Linked DNA regions of Homo sapiens. The protein of the gene in region 1 purifies or fractionates together with the protein of each later gene. This does not show direct contact. Each region holds a gene or a part of one and is shown in the gene's direction. Other genes may lie near its edges.

Region 1 (7,039 bases):
TTCAGTAAGGCCCACACAGCTGCTGCTTAAACAGTGCCCTGGGTGTCTCACAACTACAGCTGCAGGAACTGCATGAAGGGCTTATTTGGCCAGACCTCCCAATGTATATGGTAAATTGTATTCTAATAGGGACAGGGAGGAAGAAAGAAGGGATGTTGGTTTGAAATTCTACTGAGAAGCCAAAGCTCCTTTCTGTGGACAAAGTGAGTTTGCTTATCTAAGGAGCCATCTTTCCATGTTTTATTCCCTTAGAGTTTCACTGGCAGGTAAAACCAGAAATTCTTCAGCTGCTGAAAAAGGACTTTGCCCTGGCTTAGGCTTCTTTGATAAAGAATTGCTTGATTGGAGAATGGCCTTCATCAAAACACCTGACTAGTTTTTCCGTAAGAAGGAAAACTTAACCAGATGGCATCTGCTGGGGCTTTTTTGGGAGTCATTTACAGTTACAGATCCTTGAGCAAAGCCCATTTGATAGATGGCATGGCCATGTAGAGGCTGGGGCTTGTAGTGACTTCTCCCTGGGAACTACTTGAACTGGACTGGCTACGAGGATGGAAAGTTGGGGATGATGGTCATCGGGGGTGACTCTTAAATGGTCTTTATCTTGTGGCTGGAGTGTGTGGTGAGTTCACTCCTTAGTGAAGGCAAGAGTGTGAGAGAAAGCTGGAAGGCTGGCGAGAGGGAGGGGAGATGGATAGAAAGATGAACCAAAGAACCTATTTCCTTTTGAACTTGGAAAGTGCATGGTCTCTCTGAAACTAAGGAGGAAATATTAATAAAGCTACTGGTAATGAATTTTCTCCCTTAGTTGAGCGTCAGTCACAGAAGACTTGTATTGTTTGTTTAGGAACTTAGTACAAACTCAAAATGTTTTGAAGCCTTAGGTATTTTCATTTCCTTTTATGTTAGTTGGGCCTTATGTTGCATGGTGATCAGTGCCAAGGATGGTGGGAAGACAGCTACACACCATGGAAAAGATCTGTTCCCCAAGCCTTGCCCAGCATTCACAGGAGATCTTTTTTCTAGTTATGTGTTTTCCAAATAAGGCTCTCTGGGAAAACCTAGAGTTTCATTACGTAGCAACTCAGCGTGTGTATGTGTGTGTGTGCAGATGACACCTGTGTTAAACATCAACCAACCACTAAGCGTAGATCTTGGTTTCTGCTGAGTATTTGGATTCTGCACATGAAGTGCTCTGTTTTCCTGGAAAGGGTTGGTCCTGCATGATGGCACGTTGGTATTGGTCAATCACACCTCATCTCTTCTGGTTCTAGGAAGGAGTGAGGAACATGAAATGCTCCTTCTCATTCTGAATTGCCATGTGGTCTCTTCAAAGAATATCATTGAATGTATTCACCCTTTGAAGAGGGCACACATTTTAAAGGATCAGAACTGTATTGGAAACCCAGAGTCCTGGCCTTGGGTCTTGGCTCTGCCTCATACTAGCTGCAAAAAGTTGGATTTCACGTTCCTCACCTATAAAATAAGGGAATTTGAAAAGTTGACATCAAATGTCCCGTCTCATGACAAATTATCTAATTCTGTATAACCTAAATTGAACTGTGGTGACATAAATTAATGGTAAACTCACTGGAAGACTATAGAAATGTGAGTTCCTATGGTACTCAGAATTAATCACTGGGCAATTTAAAACTATTGTTAAACTCCCAGGGAGCACCTGTTTTTGGTCCAGAAGAAAAGATGTGGAGTGACATCTTTTTTTCACCCTGGAACTTACATTTTCTTTTTAAATCATATATATTTCGATTAAATTTTATTCAGCCCAATCTGAACATTTATTTTTAATCTCAAACACTTATTACTCTTTACAAACCCATTTGGTTAGATATTATTTTCAGGTTGTACACAATGAATTTCTCATTTCTGTTTGTGATTATAACAATTCAAATATCAATTATAATTTATTGTGTTAATAAAAATGTAAGTAATGATGAAATTTATTGTCCCAAAAAACTATTATATGAAGCTTTTTAAAAGGGAAAAATGTAATATAATTAAGAGTGTTTTCTTATGACTATGGAAGATAGTCAAAGATTGCATATTTTTTTCTTTCTTTCCAGCAAATAGTGTTTATCTATAGACACAGAGGAATAGTGCTACCAGCATTCAAGTTTTTGATAACAGTATTTTCCACATTTAGTGTGATGCAAGACACAAAGGGGGAACTTAATAACTTTTTATTGAATAAATGAATAAATTAGTGGATAGATGGTGTCCACTTGAAGTCCCCTGTGGAAAATAGATAAGACCCTTCCTTAAATGCTAAAGAGAGTTTTTAGTTATTTCATAGTAATCTCTATAAAACACTTTAAGTTATATGAAGTCTTTGTTCTAACATTATCTCTATAGTGACAATTTAGTATTATACTAGGCTCTTTTACAATTTGGGGACATTTACTTAAGCAGTAATAAAAAATATGTAAACAAATATGGATATGGTGTCATTTCCAAGACATGAATCCTAAAGATGATATTAGAACAAAGTTCCAGCATCTGTACAAAGTACTATTCATTCAAAAAAATATTTTTTTGTCCTCGCGCAGTGGTTCATGCCTGTAATCCCAGCACTTTGGAAGGCCAAGGTGGGAGGATTGTTTGAGGCCAGGAGTTATGAACTGTTCATTTATTCCATCTTAATGTTTAAAAGAAAATAACAAATCCTTCCATTATAGCTTTTCATTGATTTTTGTTAGAATTATATTGGGCAAACAGTTCAAATGCATCCTTAAATAATTATTCAATATGCATAGAGAGCAGAAATTAAAATGTTTTCTGTCATCTTCATGGTCCCATTAAACTGAACAGTAGCTTAGCCTGTCTGTGCCAATTTGCAGCAAATCTATATTATTCTGAGAAAACAGACTGCATTTTAATAACCTTATATTTCCTTTGCCATATAGCTTTTGCTCTCTGGTGCAAAATCTTTTCCCACTAAGCAGATATCTGTGGCAAGATTTTGCCACAGATATCTGCTTCTTAGCTATGCACTTAGTATTTTAATAGATGTGGAATCATGGGGTATGCAAACCTGGTGCCAGATATGGTCCTGCTGAAAACAGATTTGCTCAGTGATTCAAGAGTGGGTAGAGTTAATGGATGCATAAACCATCCCCAAAAGTTCATTTCTTCTGACAGACAGGAAATCTACCTGCAGGAATAACATCAGCCTGGACAACTGGTAGCTCAGTGACTCTCCAGAGCATTAGTTGAGGCTGAAAGAACAAAGAGGAAGGAAAATGGTATACTTCCCCCCTTTTAAAATATGCTATTGCACTCATTTAAACTTGGATTAAAATTATTTTTATAAAAAGGAATTGTAATTTACAAATTGCCTTACTATTCAAAATATATTAAAAGTCACAGAATCTGTATGTACATAAACTTCTGTATAGTTGAGCATCTAAGGGCAAAGGTAGTTTTGATTTGTCTTAGGGCTACTGGAATTGAATCCAGAGATCAGCCTCACCCTGGTACCCTACCACAGCTCAGATGATAGTTCACTAACAATTCTAGTCTTCTTCTAGAAACTTTGCTGCTTTTGTTATTGCCATATCCATAGCTCTGTGGCAGTGCCTTCAACATGGTAGACACATATCTCTCAATAATCTCTTAAATGAATGAATTTGAGGATTCTTAACAGGGCTTGTTTGAACTGGTATGTTTTTATGAGTTAGGATTGCAAGAGCAGGAATTAAGCTTTATGTCATTGTAATGTTAGGGAATGACATGTATTTACATGTGTCTTCTTCCTGGAGTGATTGTTTCTAGTTTTTAGCTCACTGAGGTTCCTGTGGAAAATGAGGGCAGGGAGAAAGCTGGTTGCCGGCCCATGCATCACACTCAACACATTCTAGATGATGATTAGGAAAATGTACTCTGGAAAAATAGAGGATATTGTAAGATCTTTTTAACAATTTTCTATAGAGTTTTCCAACCATGGTATATATTGAAAATACATTGTTGGTATTTATTCTTAATATTGTATGCTTAATTCCAAGGTTTCTCTAAAAGTACTGTGGTTTCCCAATCCTTAAGGTTTAAGACGTTTCTAACAAGTCTTCCATGACCTAGTCTCCTCCTACCCCTCCAGCTTCACATGTTTTTCTTCTGGTTGACTTTGCTGGAGTCACATTGAGACTCAATAGGATAGCACATTTAAGCTCCTTCCCACTCCAGGGCTTCTGCATATATTGCATGTTGTTCTACCTGGAACCCTATGATTAACCTGCTGATCCATCCCATATCTGAGTTTTAAAATGACTCTTCATTAAAGATGTCCCTAAGCCTCACCCTGTTCTCCCTGAGTGTTTCCCTGATTGTAAACAGACAATTAATTAGACAGCTAATTGTTTCTTTTGACATGTGAGTTTCCTGAAGCAGGTGTCTGGATAGTTCCCTTCTGAATTCACAGGGCTTTTCCAGAGGGTGTGGCCAACAGTAGATGCTCAATAAATATTTGCCAAAGCCATAAATGTTGAATGAATCATCCAAAGTTCAGTAGTATTTTTTTTCTTTTTGTCTCTTTAGCTGGGAAGTTATCAATTCCAAACCAGATGAAAGACCCAGGCTCAGCCACTGTATTGCAGAATCATGGATGAATTTCAGCATATTTCTTCAAGAAATGTCTCTTTTTAAACAGCAGAGCCCTGGCAAGGCAAGTTTTCCAGTAAAGGAGTATGTTTTAAAATGTTCAGTTACTTGGAAACAAATGAACTAACCTATTTTATCAGCTTGTCAGATTTCTCCAATTTTAAATATAATATACTAAGAACATATGCCATAAAAGCTGGTATCAGCAAGGTTCAGATGTGTGAGTGTGCGAACACTAGATAATCCTCAGCCTCACATTGTGAAATTGGATTGGTTTTACATTTTATATATATTTATCTAGCTCATTAGCTAAAATGAATGGTGATTGGTCTTATCAGCAAGACTAGGGAGAAAACAGTCTTAAGAATTTCAGTTATCGTATTTAGCCTGGTGCTGAAGTCAAAGGGAGATGAAATGAATACATAGTTCTTTGACTGTGCTTTTGGAGATAACTGAATCTTATTTTCAAGCTAAAAAGTGGAGATTCTTGTATGATTTACTTATTTAAGAAAGAAAACTTTTGGCAAAAACATTCATAGTGATTATATAAACAAAATGAGTATTTTTCCAATTAAGATAAAACCCATGAGGGGGAAGTGTCTTACATGGTTGGGAAGGGATTACATGGAGTGCTGCACATACTTGTATTATTTTATGCATAAAGGCAGCTTTAATTCTGATCAACTGTCTTGATAGCTTGGGTGAGGTGCAGAACCATCAATAGACCTTGTCTATTCCAGTGTTGCTTTCAAGCTCCTTGAATATCCACCCGTGGATAGAATGAAGAGCTAGGAATGTCAGCATTGAAAATCTCTGTCTTTGTACCTTGTATAGGCAATATCGTAACTTCAATAGTATTAAATAATAGAACTATGCTTGGAGACATTTTGAGTGTATTAAAGTGGCAGTATTGCATTTGGATGCATTTTTTTTATTCATTGAAGGCATTTTTTTTTTTTTAGCATAGATACCTATATTTGGGGCATGATGTGCTGTTGATGTTGATTTTACTGAAGTGATTAAATGTATTTTTGGAAGATTCTAAACTTCAAACTTCTGCATTGGGTTGCATTAATGTGCCCCAAGTCAATTAGCTTAAAATGATGATGCTACAAATGTAGGGCATATTATGAAATCCCTTTGTAAAACTAAATTCTGGATATAGTAATGCTTTTCTTGGCTTATTTGTTCCTTTGACTTTTATGGCCTTTCCATTTCATTTATAGAATTCCAGATTCTTTCAAGGGCCCTTGCTGTTTTAGAAACAGCTCTTAATTTTGTTCCACAAGTCATCTAATCTACTTTTGACTAGTTAATTTATTAACTCTGTACCGAAGAATGAAAAATCAAAATTAAACTTAGATTTAGACCCCTTTGCTCTTTATCATCATCAGTTATTGGTCAGAGGTATGTATTCCTTCCTCCTGTATCTTTTAGAAACTCCCTTAATGAATTTCCTTTGCTTGCTTATCAGTTTAATTTACTATCACTGTTTAAAGATGACGAAAAATGTAAGACAGTTTAAGACTGGAGGGTGAAAAATCAGGTGAAGACTTTATGGTAACATTTTTCTGCCTTGATGTTTCTAAAGGGAATTAAGGATATTTTCTGATGTTTTTAAATTTCTTAAAACAATCAAGATTTTTTAACCATAAATGACAGAAGGAAAATAAACATGTCACTGTAGGAGTTTCATTTCAATGGCAGTTTTTTTCTAGGTGACTTAGAAGTGGGGTCAGTTTGAGCAGTATATATGGTTAGGAAAGAGGATAGTGATGGCCATAAATTTATCCTGTCAGCTTAGCAGCTATAAATTACATTAGATTTGTGTAAATTACGTTAGATTTGTGTAGATACCTCTAATTTCTGTAACTTGTTTTGCTGTGTTTTTATGAATTTCAGTGGGCTTATAGTGGTAGTTTGAACTTTCAGATGTAGTTATCAGGCCGCATTAATTTCCTTAAATGAGCGAAGTAAAAGAAGTTTCTGGGAACATAATAGTTTTCTGTTCTCTTGCACCTGGCAGTAATATAGCCACAGGCATGAGTAATGGGAGTTGTCACTCTCTGTGCCAGAAATTAGCTCCTGTGTCCTCAAAATAATTATTACCAAGTGTTGAAATGGACTAAGACTGGTTGAATGCAGCAGTCATTAGTCAGCCCTTAGTGCAAAATAATGCTCTTTGGAAAAAATCTGTAATAACCAGATAGGTCACTTATACCGGTCACTATAGATTTACAATTGTGTGTGTATCCTGTGCTCCGAAATATCTTGGTGTTATGCTTAACTATCCCATGTTATTTCTATTATTTCCAGTTTTGTCTCCTGGTCTGTAGTGTGTGCACATTTTTTACGATCTTGGGAAGTTACATTCCTGGGGTTATACTCAGCTATCTACTGTGTAAGTATAGTAGAACATATGGCTAAG
Region 2 (4,765 bases), on another chromosome or scaffold:
TATTTCTGGTGCGGTCACAGCTGTTTCCACTTGTTATAAGTTGCTGTATCTAATGCACACACACGTATGTGCGCTGGGGGCTCAGTCCTAAAGTCAAATATGCACACGCAGAGAAGACAGCTGTTGCTTTGTTTTAGAGAATACTTTTTTCTTCCCGCAGCTCAAGCTGACACTTTTGGAATTGCTAGTGGAGATGCTGTTGTTAGATACTGGCTAGAACTTGTCAAGGTCGACCATGAGGCTCTCTTCATGTGCTGACCTGTGCCTATCTTTCCAACTTCATCTCTGCAACATTCTCCCTTCAGTGTTCACTGTAGCAAACACCTTGCAGTTCCCAGAAAGTGCCCTGTGTCCTGCTTTCCTCTTAACTCCCTACTGGAATGTCATCCTCTTTACTGCACACCTGGTCATCCTACTGAGAGGCCTTCCTTGACTCCCTAGCCTAAATTGGTTGTCCTTGTCTGTTCTTTCCTAACTTGTCTGCATCCACACATTGCTCATGTTGAGTTTTACCTGTGTCTGCCTTCTGCTAGATTGCAGGCCCCTGAACAGACAGTGACATGTTTTCAGGTTCAAGTCGCTGTGACTGAGTTCCCTGGACACCTAGGTGCTCAGTGGGTGCTGGTTTGTTGGACTTAGTTTCCTGCTGTGCTTCCTTACCTCAGGCATGTGTTCTGTACTGAGTGTATCTTGCCTACTCCATTCCTTTTCCACGTGGGCAACGCTGAACATTTGCCCCAGACTCTGTATCTTGGTTAATACCTGACATATAAAGTATTTAGCACATAGGCAAAGATCACTACCTCTTTCAGGAACAAAGGCCGGCTGGCGGGTGCGACTCTGGCGCATTGCCTTTGCCTGTGTGTTGCTGGCCAGTTATCGGCTTCTTGCATCACAGCTCCAGAGTCCCATTTAGCTTGACATGGGCTGGGCCTTGCAGATACTCCTCCTTCACCTCCTGACCCTGTTCAGCCAGGCCAGTAGGGGGCACTGGAGGAGGAAAGCCGCCACCCCCCCTCCTCCACCCCCCTGCCCGCCTGCCCGCCCCCGGTTCCTGTGTGTTTCTGCAGTGTTCAGATCTTGCTGGCAGTGCTCCCCAGGGCCCAGTGCGAGCGGAGACAGCGGTGGCAGCGCCTCTCAGGCGGTTTCCAGAGCGGGCCGTGGCTCCCGGGAACGGCTTCCCGCAGGTGATTCTGTGCACACTGGCCTCTACCTGGTTCAGCGGGAAGCCTCTCCACTGTCCAATGGGCTTCAGCCACACCCTCCCTAGCCGTGTCTCAGCCCAGCCTTGGGGACCTCTGTTCTAGCTTGTTCCGTCCCTGAGTGCCGTACTTCAATCTTCTTATCCATTAGTGCTCTTTCCCCGCCATGAGTCAGTTCCCGGTTCCTCAGTCTCCTGTTAATAATTCTTCATGAAACTATATTCACATCACTGTGTGGCTTCTGTGTTCTGACTGGACCCTAGCCAGTACAGGTGCCCTCTGCCTAGGCAGCTGAAGGAACCATACAGGCTTTTCGGGGGCCGGCCTAAGTGGCACCTCCGTCACTCCGCAAACATCTGAGTTCCTGCTGTCGGATAGGCACTGGCCCACCCTCGAGGAAGTGAGACCTGGCTTCAGCCCCACAGGAGCTCCAAGACTGGGAGGAGAGAAGTAATGAAGTGTGTAGAGCTGGAGAGGAGGGGTGTGTGTGTGTGTGTGTGTGTGTTTGGGAGAGTGCAATGTGACAAAAACTTAACAAAATTTTAGTGTGGTTCTAGTAGGAGCTAAAGGGACAGATAAATGAAAATTAACAAAATTGATGAATACCACTTTAAGCATAAGTGATATCCCTGATAGAAAATCTAACCAAGTGTGGTTTTGTTTGTGAATAGTCTTTCCCTTTCCACAAATCACTTGAGGTGGGTGAGGTTTTGTTTTGTCTTCTCATCTCTGAACTCCTAAAGGGCAGGGACTGTCTTTTGTCTCAATTATCTTATACTCACAATGACTATTACATACTAGATGCATAATAAATGTTAGTTTACTGAATGAAGGGTGATATAACTATTCTGTATTCCATTTTCTACTCCAAGAAAGCCGAAATCAGCCAGTGTATAGACCGCCAACTCTGAGGTATCCTTATTTCATAGACATGGAAACTGATGTTAAGGAACTTACCCAAGGCTACGCTGATAAAATGTGACTGACCCAGGCTTTGAATCCAGGCTGATACCAAAAGCTTGGCGTTTTCACTGCACTTTGCAGTTCTCACCATGAGTGGTTACTGTAGTCAATCAAGTGCCTGCCCTATTTGTGTGTGCACATGGACACACTCACCTAGGGGTCTTTTTTCCTCTTCAGAGCCATCACCATTTCTTTTAGAGTCACCGACCTCTGGCCATCCAGCTACACATGGACAGGGTTAGAAAAACTCAAGGCTTGAGAGTCGCTCTCCATTTGCTCCTTTAAGGATTCAAAAAGTCTTTTAATGAAGTGTATCCACTTGCTAGAAAATTGAACTTGGTACAAGTTGTGGAACATGTTTAGTTGCATAAAAGTTCAGTAAAAGCTAAACCTCGGGGAACGTGTGTGCTCTTCAAACATTAACTCTTGCCGTCCCTCTTTCTTCTCAGGTGCTGCTACCCCCGTATGATGATGCCACTGTGAATGGTGCTGCCAAGGAGCCACCGCCACCTTACGTGTCTGCCTAAGCCTTCAAGTGGGCGGAGCTGAGGGCAGCAGCTTGACTTTGCAGACATCTGAGCAATAGTTCTGTTATTTCACTTTTGCCATGAGCCTCTCTGAGCTTGTTTGTTGCTGAAATGCTACTTTTTAAAATTTAGATGTTAGATTGAAAACTGTAGTTTTCAACATATGCTTTGCTGGAACACTGTGATAGATTAACTGTAGAATTCTTCCTGTACGATTGGGGATATAATGGGCTTCACTAACCTTCCCTAGGCATTGAAACTTCCCCCAAATCTGATGGACCTAGAAGTCTGCTTTTGTACCTGCTGGGCCCCAAAGTTGGGCATTTTTCTCTCTGTTCCCTCTCTTTTGAAAATGTAAAATAAAACCAAAAATAGACAACTTTTTCTTCAGCCATTCCAGCATAGAGAACAAAACCTTATGGAAACAGGAATGTCAATTGTGTAATCATTGTTCTAATTAGGTAAATAGAAGTCCTTATGTATGTGTTACAAGAATTTCCCCCACAACATCCTTTATGACTGAAGTTCAATGACAGTTTGTGTTTGGTGGTAAAGGATTTTCTCCATGGCCTGAATTAAGACCATTAGAAAGCACCAGGCCGTGGGAGCAGTGACCATCTGCTGACTGTTCTTGTGGATCTTGTGTCCAGGGACATGGGGTGACATGCCTCGTATGTGTTAGAGGGTGGAATGGATGTGTTTGGCGCTGCATGGGATCTGGTGCCCCTCTTCTCCTGGATTCACATCCCCACCCAGGGCCCGCTTTTACTAAGTGTTCTGCCCTAGATTGGTTCAAGGAGGTCATCCAACTGACTTTATCAAGTGGAATTGGGATATATTTGATATACTTCTGCCTAACAACATGGAAAAGGGTTTTCTTTTCCCTGCAAGCTACATCCTACTGCTTTGAACTTCCAAGTATGTCTAGTCACCTTTTAAAATGTAAACATTTTCAGAAAAATGAGGATTGCCTTCCTTGTATGCGCTTTTTACCTTGACTACCTGAATTGCAAGGGATTTTTATATATTCATATGTTACAAAGTCAGCAACTCTCCTGTTGGTTCATTATTGAATGTGCTGTAAATTAAGTTGTTTGCAATTAAAACAAGGTTTGCCCACATCCAAGATGACCTTGTGATTTTGTGCTGATTGTGTCTGAGGACCTTTCCCTCCACATATGGTCTGGCAGATGCACCCAGTTCAGCCTAAGGAGTAGGCTTTTTTTTGGGGGGGGGAGGTCGGGTGGGGGGGATTTTTAATCTTTTAATTTTCAAGATGGTTAAAATATTGAAATGTTTAAGTGGATAACTATATTATTCATAAAATGACTGAGTGAAAACTAATACACTATGAGATGAAAAGTACTTGTCAGGGATTTTCAAGCTTTTGCTCAAGTAATTACTATGAAATAACAATTTCTAGAAATGAAGAACAATCCGTGGAGAATAAATTACCATTGGTGTGGGGGAAAAAAGCCAAACAGAAGTAGAAAAAGGTGTAGCCGGCATACAAATGTTATCTACAGTGTATTTTTAGATTTTTTATACTTGACCAGGTCTCTTATGTCCTTTTTCTGGAAAACTGTTTTTAACTACTAAAGTGATTATAAATGAAAAAGTGGCCAGTAAAGTGACTACTATCTTCAGGGCTTTAAACCAGTTGGGATAATGTGGTAAGAGAAAAAGTTGAAGGTGTAATGCTACCCGCATACCCATTATTACTGTGACTATGGCTTCACTAAGTCTTTCAGAAATAAGAAGGCAAACCATGAAAAGAAAAGAGGAGCTGTACTGCTAGCTAAATTAAGGTAGTCTGGTTTGGCTGGACTACCTTCTGGTAGAGCAAAACCGCATCTGATCCCACCCAAGAAAGATGGAAACTGGCTCCATAAGCCATCTGAGTAAAAGCTAATATGGGAATATAAGTTTTTGTCATCAGCATGACCAGTGGTGGGGCAACGAAGGGGATTAGTCCTGCCAGAGTTACATATAATGCTGGCTTTGGGCTGTCAGTTAGGTAAGTGATGGTGCTTGGTGGCCTGGCTGGAAGTGCTTGCTTCTGCTTCTTTTTAA

The links.
Region 2: the proteins of RETREG1 (region 1) and LAPTM4B purify together in Homo sapiens (affinity purification with mass spectrometry; 3 studies listed by BioGRID and IntAct, with this or other methods). This does not show direct contact.

The regions. Positions count from the first base shown.
Region 1 is NC_000005.10:16,480,982-16,488,020, reverse strand, and holds part of RETREG1 (reticulophagy regulator 1), read left to right. Parts: intron 1-4,548; coding exon 4,549-4,675; intron 4,676-6,927; coding exon 6,928-7,012; intron 7,013-7,039. UniProt on the Homo sapiens protein: Endoplasmic reticulum (ER)-anchored autophagy regulator which mediates ER delivery into lysosomes through sequestration into autophagosomes.
Region 2 is NC_000008.11:97,848,783-97,853,547, forward strand, and holds the end of LAPTM4B (lysosomal-associated transmembrane protein 4B), read left to right. Parts: intron 1-2,614; coding exon 2,615-2,692; 3' UTR 2,693-4,231; downstream 4,232-4,765. UniProt on the Homo sapiens protein: Required for optimal lysosomal function. Blocks EGF-stimulated EGFR intraluminal sorting and degradation.